2 separate regions of the Homo sapiens genome follow, and region 1 is linked to region 2. Evidence: fine-mapped expression QTL. A gene starts in region 2. The other region holds a variant in brackets. All regions are shown on one strand. Distances are between the middles of the regions. Region 1 overlaps MCPH1 (microcephalin 1). Region 2 holds the start of ANGPT2 (angiopoietin 2).

Region 1 (5,000 bases), 70 kb before region 2:
TACAATTAAAGTATTTCTGAGAAGTCAGAGTGCTTTGCAATGTTTGGTGAATAATTTACACAATTCCAGAATAATGTCTCACTTATGGAGAATACACCTACCACTTACTTCGATAAACAGAAGTAGAGTCTATGGTTTCTTTCTTTTTTTTTTTTTTTTTAGCTGCTAAAGATTATTATTAGGACAGAAGGACAATTAGCTTTAAAAGCATTGCTCAGAACATGTATTTTTTTTTCTAGTATTCTTTTTTTTTTATTATACTTTAAGTTCTAGGGTACATGTGCACAACATGCAGGTTTGTTACATATGTATGCATGTGCCATGCTGGTGTGCTGCACTCATTAACTCGTCATTTAGCATTAGGTATATCTCCTAATGCTATCCCTCCCCACTCCCCCGACCCCACAACAGGCCCTGGTGTGTGATGTTCCCCTTCCTGTGTCCATGTCTTCTCATTGTTCAATTCCCACCTATGAGTGAGAACATGCGGTGTTTGGTTTTTTTGTCCTTGTGATAGTTTGCTGAGAATGATGGTTTCCAGCTTCATCCATGTCCCTACAAAGGACATGAACTCATCATATTTTATGGCTGCATAGTAGTCCATGGTGTATATGTGCCACATTTTCTTAATCCAGTCTATCATTGTTGGACATTTGGGTTGGTTCCAAGTCTTTGCTATTGTAAATAGTGCCACAGTAAACACACGTGTGCATGTGTCTTTATAGCAGCATGATTTATAGTCCTTTGGGTATATACCCAGTAATGGGATGGCTGGATCAAATGGTATTTCTAGTTCTAGATCCCTGAGGAATCGCCACACTGACTTCCACAATGGTTGAACTAGTTTACAGTCCCACTAGCAATGTAAAAGTGTTCCTATTTCTCCACATCCTCTCCAGCACCTGTTGTTTCCTGACTTTTTAATGATCGCCATTCTAACTGGTGTGTGATGGTATCTCATTGTGGTTTTAATTTGCATTTCTCTGATGGCCAGTGATGATGCGCATGTTTTCATGTGTCTGTTGGCTGCATAAATGTCTTCTTTTGAGAAGTGTCTGTTCATATCCTTCGCCCACTTGTTGATGGGGTTGTTTTTTTCTTGTAAATTTGTTAGAGTTCTTTGTAGATTCTGGATATTAGCCCTTTGTCAGATGAGTAGATTGCAAAAATTTTCTCACATTCTGTAGGTTGCCTGTTCACTCTGATGGTAGTTTCTTTTGCTGTGCAGAAGCTCTTTAGTTTAATTAGATCCCATTTATCAATTTTGGCTTTTGTTGCCATTGCATTTGGTGTTTTAGACATGAAGTCCTTGTCCATGCCTGTGTCCTGAATATTATTGCCAAGGTTTTCTATGCTATAGAAATAGCATATTTCTATGCTATTCATCATTAATAACAATTATTTAATAATATTAATATTAAATAGTTAATATTAAATTTTTAGAATATTAAAATTTAAAATTTTTTTAAAAATAAATATTTTATATTAAATTATCAAATAAATATTAATAATAATTATTTAATATTATAAAATTAATAATCTTTCATTATTGAATTATTGATTGAGTTAAGTAATTAATTGATTAACTGATAAGGATTATTGTTAAATTATTGTACTCTTGGGTAGTACAGAGACTGCATACTGCGCTTTGCCATGTAAATACTATTGTCTACTTCCTGGTACGTGGCTCTAGGGAGGCTATGGCAGAGTCAAGTGCTTTTGCCCTTAATGTGAACAAAAAATAGTGATTGCTCTTAGTAGCCATAATATTTGGTTTATTGTCTGTGTTGGTAATAATTTCTGCTGTGTTTTCATACAGTGAAGTGATGTTTCTGCTGTTTATTTTAGTTGCATTGGAATTTGTTATATTTATTTCTTTGTTTTCCTTTTGATAAGAGAAGTACGCACTTAGTTATTTATAAAGATGTTTGGACTTCACATGTGAGTACAGTGGTGACATGCTGGGTTTTCCTGGTCATTGCTTAGCTGTATTTATAAAGTGAATATTACTGAGCAGTTAAGCCTTAACATCGAGAATCACCCATTTTCATTTTTGAAAACTGGAAAGGATTAGGTAGAATGCAAGGAGAATAAATTGAACTTAAATGTTTGTGTTCAATTGAGGTGAGCTTTTTCATAAGAATATTCAAGCCTAGGTCAACATGCAGCTTGTTTTCCCTCTCACCACCTGGAATTCAGTCTCTATCGGTCAATGTCTTCTAAAAGGGAAATGGGTTCTTAACTATATACTTTTAGTACTTTATTGCTTATCTTCCCTTTCTTGGTTGAATAGGCTGTGTTAGATATTTAGCTTCCTGCCCCTTTCTTTATGAGACAGCTAGAGCAGTGCTTTTCAAAACCTTACTAATGTGTGGATCACCTGGGGGATCTTACTGAAGTGCAGATCCTGGTTCAGTGGGTCTGGGTCTGCTCAGGCTTGAGGTGAGGTCCACGCTGCTAGTCCTGTGACCCAGCATTAGGTCCCCAGGATACAAAATATGACCGGGGATCTCTGTCGTATTCGGGGGTGGAGATGAGACAGCGTCCCAATGATGTTAGTCACATGGAACATTTAGAGATGCGGAGCTACTTTGTCAGTGTTTTACACATCGTCAAGCTGTTAGTCAAGACAGTAATCCTCTGTGGAAACTGTGGCTTGAACACTTTCAGTAAATTGCTCATGGTCATAGTGCTTGGAAATAGTAAATTTTTTTTTTTTTTCTTTGAGACAGAGTTTCGCTCTGTTGCCCAGGCTGGAGTGCAGTGGCACGATCTTGGCTCACTGCAACATCTGTCTCCCAGGCTCAAGCAATTCTTGTGCCTCAGCCTCTTGAGTAGCTGGGATTACAGGTGCATGCCACCACACCTGGCTAATTTTTATTTTTTGTAGAGACAGAGTTTCACCGTGTTGTCCAGGCTGGTCTCAAACTCCTGACCTCAAGTGATCCGC[C/T]GACCTTGGCCTCCCAAGGAACTGGGATTACAGATGTGAGCCACTGCATCCTGCCAGAAATGGTGAATTTTGAATTTGAATTCAGCTCTTCCTCAATTCATAGCCCACATTCTTTCTAGCATCTACTTCCAAAGATAGCCTAGAGAGTATTTTTTATCTTCTATAGCTGTAAACCTTGATATGGGCATTCTCTGATGGCCTGTGTGTTTTGAAAAGATTAATGGATAAGGCAGTGGATTTCACTGCTAACCTTGCTACACCGTAGCTGTGTAACCTTGGGTAAGGCAGTTTCTTTATCTGTAAAAGAATGGAAAGATCACCTAAATAAAGTACTCAGTAAACACTCAATAAATATTAAATATCGTTATTATTCAACAAGCATTTTTGACGCTGATCACTAGCCTTCATTAAAAGTATAACTTGGATGAACGTTGAACACACCGAGTGAAAGGAGCCAGACACAAAAAGCACATGTTGTATAATTCCTTTCAGACAGTATATCCAGAATAGGTAAATCCATAGAATAGAAAACTAATTAGAAGTTACCAGGGATGGAGGGGAGAGAGGGATGGGGAGTGATTACTTAACAGGTACAGGATGTTTTTCTGGGGTGATGAAAGCATTTTGAAACTAGAAAGAGGAGCTGGTTGCACAGCATCATGATATAAAATGCCATTGAATTGCACACTTTAAAATGGTTAATTGTATATTATGCCAATTTCACCTCACTTAAAAAAAGTCATATATGGAAAATAGCTTTAAGGCACCACTACAACTACTAAATAGGTTTGTATTTTTAAAAGAACTTTATGGAATTATAGGAAGCATTTCTTGATGTTATGAGATGTGTTGGAAATACAGAAGAATAGCTTATTTTGGAACAGATATTATTGGCTTGAAATTTTGCCAGTTCAAGCTGGTCTCTTTGGAAGACTAGACCTTTATTTTCTGGCTTGAAAATGCTTTGGACATAAGTACCCTATTATTTTGTTGTTAAAAATTATACTATTGACATCCCCAATTTTTTCTCCTGAAGTTCAGTATAACCTAGAAATAACTTCATTGCTACACTATTTCATTAACTACATGGGTGCTTTTTTAGTTAATAATGATGCATAATGTCTTCATGTGGCAGAAACACTAACCTGCCCCTTGTCATAAATCTGTAAAAAGATGGACATTGGTTTAAACCCAGTTGTTGAATTCTGTGCTTTTAACCAGTATGTTACACTGTCTAGTTGGGGAAGAATCCCAAATCTTCTTCTTTCTTTAGAAAAATCCAAAACAGCATACAAACTAGCAAACTCTCATAAATGTTGTTTGAGAAAATCAATTGCCCTAACTACTAAGACAAAGGATCTATAAAATCTGATGAGAACAATCTTTGTAATTTGATTTTTATAATTTTGTCAGCTTAAATTAGTAAAAAGTTAATAATTATTACTTTTGTTACGCTTATAATAAATAATGTGTTTCTACACCTTCCATAAACACCTACAACCACACTTTTTACCACAGTTGGTGGAGTGAAGGGTGGATGGAGGAGATAGTGGCAAAAACACCCCAATCACTTTCAGTGATTAAAGTAAAGATGTGTCTAACTTTACTCCTAAAGTATCATCCAGTAAAGCGGAATGTAAAACATACTTTTGAACTGTTTGAAATCAACTACATTCCTATGGCTTACGACTGTGGGACAAGTTTCTAACTATCAGATTTGATTTTTAATTAATCAGTGATATTTTATACCAGCAGTCTCCAACCTTTTTGGCACCAAGGACCAGTTTTGTGAAAGACAATTTTTCCAGGGACTTGGGGGTTGGGAGGGTGAGGGAGGAATGGTTTTGGGATGATTCAAGCACATTACACTTATTGTACACTTTATTTCTATTATTATTACATTGTAATATATAATGAAGTAATTATACAACTCACTGTAATGTAAAATCAGTGGGAGCCCTGAGCTTGTTTTCTGCAACTAGACAGTCCCATCGGGGGGTGACGAGAGACAGTGACAGATCATCAGGCGTTAGATTCTCATAAGGAGCAT
Region 2 (5,000 bases):
TGCTGCATACTTTTTAAGCTTAGCGTAATTATTCACACAGCTATGAATTTTAGAAGATGTTTAAAAGCAAACCACAGTGACCTGGGAAAGGAGGGAAACTTACTGGAGCGCTTAGCCAGGAGCTTAAAAAGACATTGCTAGTGAGTTTTATGTCACATGAAATCTACATTTGATAGGTCATTTTGGTAAGTTTTTGTTGTTTTAAATGACTCCTCTTGACACAGTAACCAGTGGTGCTGGGAACATTCATTCACATTCATTCATTTAAGCTCATGACTCAAATAATAACTTAGTCGTTTCCTCTCTGAAGGTAGGGGAGGTAATGAGGAGCACCGATTAGGCTCCAAGATCCGTTCTGAGATTCAGATAAGGTGTCCTAACAAAAGGTTTATGGTGAAATGAAAGAGTGAGAAAATAATTGTGCTTTTTCTAGGGTCATGCGTCAAATGAGGCTCACCAACTTTTAAAAGACTTTACATAGCTTTAGATAATCACATTCCCTGCCATGTAAGCATTGTGATGTAATGGCATCATCATGCTACTTAACAATTAATTTATGCATTTTGTTTAAACTTCCTTTAGAATATATATAGTCCATATAAAGAAAATTCCAGGTTCGTTTTGGATTTTGTATAAATAGCTCCCATGTTTACATGTGAAAAAAAATTATTTATGAAAGAAAAACAGAGCTTTCAATATCCTATTTTGGTTACGTCTCCATAAAAACTCTAGGAAACAGTGGGATCATCTGTGAAACAGTGGAATCACCCCAAGAACAAACTGTCAGACAGACCGTCCTGTCGTGGCATGACTTGAACATAACCGTCCCACGTGGGGACGCATTCCGCACCGGTTGCTGGAACTGACGGGGGCTGCAGTGCTGAATACCTCTGGGACGCTTGGGAACTGTGCCCCTGTTTACAGACGGCAAGCCCTTAGTGGTAGGGCCCTGAGATTCTGAGAAACATAAGGTCTGCTTTATTTAATTTCCTCTCGTTTACCAAGAGTCACAACCTATTTTAGTAAATAAATTCAGGAAATTGGTAAAGCACTTTACTCCATCCGTTATGCCTCGGTCATCAGCATGGTTGTCACGGTCTCTCTGGCTCACGGGCTGCTGCGGCTCACAGCCTTCCCTCACTTGCCTGCAACCAGCTGAGAGCCTCCCTGGTGATGGGTGTTACTGAGCTTAAACGATGTAAACAAACAGAACGGCACACAAGTTGTGCAGGGAAGTATATTTCCTCTACCTTGTTAATAAAGATTTCTAACTTTAGAGATTTTCTGTATTGACTCTGGCATTCTTTCCAAATAATTATTTTCACCCCGGGGACTACCCACACACCCTGGGATAGAATAAAAGAAATTATCTTTCATTTGAGGGTACCAGCAACCCGCTCTCCAGCTCTAATCCTCTTCATCCTCCTTCTTTTTTTTTTTTTTTTTTTGGTTGTTAAAACCTGAGCTGCTGCCAAGCTGATCTTAATAGCATGTTCACAAAGACAGATGGATTTTTTTCCTACCTTCATTAGCCACTGAGTGTTGTTTTCCATGATGTTCTCCAGCACTTGCAGCCTCTGCACCGAGTCATCGTATTCGAGCGGCGCGTCCCTCTGCACAGCATTGGACACGTAGGGGCTGGAGGAAGAGCGGCAGTTGTCCATCTCTGGCAGGAGGAAAGTGTAGCTGCAGGACCCATGCTGGACCTGATATTGCTTCTTTCCTATGCTGTCCATGCTCTTCCGAAAGTTGTTATAGGCTGCGGCCAAGACAAGATCACAGCTCAGAGTAAAGAAAACAATCTGCCACATTCTTTCTTCAGTAATAAACCAGCAGCTTAGCAAACTTGAGGGCAAACACACGTCCAGAGTCCCGAGCTGCTGCCGTCTAAAACGCAGGGCTGCTACGCTGCCATGGCTGGGTCCGTCAATGAAAGTCTTCTCTTTCCTCTTTTTCCAGTAGCAAACCTGGTTTTTACTGCTGTGTTCTCTCCAGGCATGCAGTAAACTGTCAGATTGCAGTGGGAAGAACAGTCCTGCTCACTTGGGAGGGCTGTGTCAGCTTTTACAGAGCAGCTTTCACGGTCCTTTGTTCCTCTCTCCCCAGATCCTACAGTGTCAGTATCCGAATCAATCACTTTCCTTTCCTTATATGATAAGTTGATAAGAGCAGCCAGACATGTGTAGTGGGCTGCTCCGCCCTCCTGGCTTAGCCGTTATCTTCCTGTAGGGGGTCACTAGCCAGGCAACAGGAAAAATCAGAGCAGAATGCCTGCCCTCCAACCAGGACCCATGCTGCAGAAACCCTCTGGGAAAAACCGATCTGTTACAGGACCCCTGGGCATTTCCTAGGCACCACCCCAATTAAGTATTTCCTAGAGAGAGCAGTTGATCTCTTTTGTCTGAAACTGATTTTTGCCGTGCTAAGCTGGCAAAATATCTGAGGTAATAACTTTAATGTTGAAGTACAATGAAAGTTCCTGTTTTTTCCTTTAGGAATAAAAATATTACAAATAGGTCAGGACTTCGGTTTATTTTTGTTATTACAAATAAAGAGGAAGAAGTTTGGCTCCTGTAAACGTGTGCCTTTTCAGAGGGAAAAATAGATTCATTGATTTTAGTTGATTCTTGAACCACTAGCCAAGTTACAAAAGATTTTCATTTCCGAACAGTTGGATAGAAAGATCTGTTATTAAGTCACGTTAGAAACATCAGTTTCTGAGCTCTGACCTTTATTCTTTAAAAAAACTCCACTTGGATATTCACTCTAAAAATACACTGTACTGATTAAGTTCATTACATTACAATAGAGAAATTAGAATTTAAGTGCCTGTGTAGAAAGAGGAATACAAACTTTTTTTTTTTTTTTTTTTTTTTGAGACGGAGTCTCGCTCTGTCGACCAGGCTAGAGTGCAGTGGGGCAATGTTGGCTCACTGCAACCTCCGCCTTCCGGGTTCAAGTGATTCTCTTGCCTCAGGCTCCTGAGCAGCTGGGATTACAGGCAAACGCCACCACACCCGGCTAATTTTTGTATTTTTAGTAGAGACAGGGTTTCACCATGTTAGGCTGGTCTCAAACTCATGACCTTGTGATCGACTCGCCTTTGGCCTCCCAAAGTGCTGAGATTACAGGTGTGAGTCACCATGCCTGGCCCACAAACTTCTTTATTGTGTCAGAATTTGTTGACATCTCAGCATTTTGTAACACATTATCAATTACATTAGTCCCCCTTGGTATTAGACTCGGGCAAGTCACTTCCCTGTTTTAATTAAGCTCTAATGTCCTCATCTGTGCAATTCAAGGGGTGCACTCACAAGATTTTTCACCTTCAATCCTATGGCTCTGTAAGTTCTGCAAGTCACTTCCTTTAACAACTAAAACTTAATACTTCAGAGATTAATAATATGTTAACTCAGCAGCCCAAGTGTACATAGGGAAAAAGCCCCCTGCCTTTGCTGCGGTTTATCTCTCAAGGTACAAGGTTTATTATTCCCAGTGAGCGCTGAATAGCTGGTACACTGACTTAACAGACCACATCTACCCATAAAAGATCTTTATTTTTTACTAAGCTCTAACCGAAAGACAGCCTTTCCCTTATCAATGAATAGTTAACGAACAACAGTGTGAATATCTGTGACTTTCTCATCCTCAGAAATCAGCTCTTTTTATTTGCTGCCACAATACTCAGAACTACATTTTTATTAAACCCAGCCCTAGATCTTGCTACTGAACATTGGAATAAAGTAGCATGTGTCTTCTTTTGAGAAGGTGTTTATAGGCTTCACCAGACAACCAAAGGGTTCTGTCACACAGAAAAGCTGGAAGACATGCTCTGGAAGGATCTCATTAGTAGAAGAGGTAGTATGATTCCACCAAGGTTCTGGACATGGTTTCCACTAAGGGAACCAATTAAAGATGCTATACCCATCCGGACAGTGCACCGTCGAAGAAAGCATATAGGTCTTAAAGATGAGACCTGTGTTAGAACCCTGCTTCTGTGTGACCTCCAGCAAATGCTTCCATTCTTGGAGCCTCAGTCTCCCTAGTCATAAGATGGAGATCATTTTTTCTCTGTAGGGTTTTTAGGATTAAGATATAATTGTATGTTTAGAAATATTTGTTCCTTTTCTTTACAGGCATGCTCCATTAAATGGGGATCAGTTCTTCCACCATCAAATAGTATAACTCTGCTATTCTCTGAATGCAAAGCAGTGGCAGTGGCATAGGGTACAATTTTTTTATTTCCTGTTTGAAAAAGCATATTGTAAGGTATTAATATCACATATGTGGTTTTACCTTTTTTCAAGATTATTTTTTGTAGAGACGGGGTCTCACTCTTGTTGCCCAGGCTGGTCTTGAACTCCTGGCATCCAATGATCCTCTTGCTTGGCCTCCCAAAGTGCTGGGATCACAGGTGTGAGCCACTGTACCTGGCCTGCATATATGGTTTTAAAAGTCATTCAGTTGTCTTCCAGGCAAATAGAGTAGTTTAAAAGGAACAAATAGAAAGAGGGCACACCACAGTACTTTTTGTCTACCAGCCTTGTGTCAGACACCATGCTATGCACTGGGGATAGAGATTAAGGCAACTGGGTGTCTGACCTAAAGAAGCTAATAGTGTATGGAGAGGGAGAGACCCATAAACAAATTGGATGTGGTAAGAGAGAGCAGTCGGAGCACAAAGAAAGACAGTGATGCTTCCGGGTGCACAATATGCCATGTGCAGCTGGCATGGACTCCATCCTTTTCAAATTCCCTCAAGTTCCGAACATGGAAGGAACAGCTCTTTGTAGATTCCTAAATGGAAATTATCGGAACCAGAGAGTCAGGGGAAGCTCTAGTAGAGCCGGAGTTGGCAAACTCTGTCCAGTGTCAGATGGTAATTATTTTCGGCTCTGCAGGCTATACGGCCACCATCGCCACCACTCAAAGGTAATGCGGTGCAAAGCAGCTGTGGGACAGCATTAACTGAGTGAGCGTGCTGGGCTCCAATAAAGCTT

Evidence for each region. PIP is the estimated chance that this variant, and not a neighbour inherited with it, causes the effect. A credible set is the group of variants that fine-mapping cannot tell apart.
Region 1: its variant is the best candidate, but not a certain one, in a credible set for the expression of ANGPT2 in tibial artery (GTEx, PIP 0.51).

The regions. Positions count from the first base shown.
Region 1 is chr8:6,491,234-6,496,233 of GRCh38, forward strand. The region is part of intron 11 of MCPH1 (microcephalin 1); the gene reads left to right. Among named protein-coding and RNA genes, the nearest start is that of ANGPT2, 70 kb to the right of the region's middle. The variant C/T (reference allele first, on the strand shown) is at 2,951.
Region 2 is chr8:6,561,124-6,566,123 of GRCh38, forward strand. ANGPT2 (angiopoietin 2) reads right to left here and starts at 2,122. Exons shown (of 9, transcript NM_001118887.2): 1 at 1,524-2,122. The coding sequence starts at 1,811. All of the region lies in intron 12 of MCPH1 (microcephalin 1), which reads left to right. RefSeq lists a silencer at 1-79 and enhancers at 939-1,464, 1,465-1,991.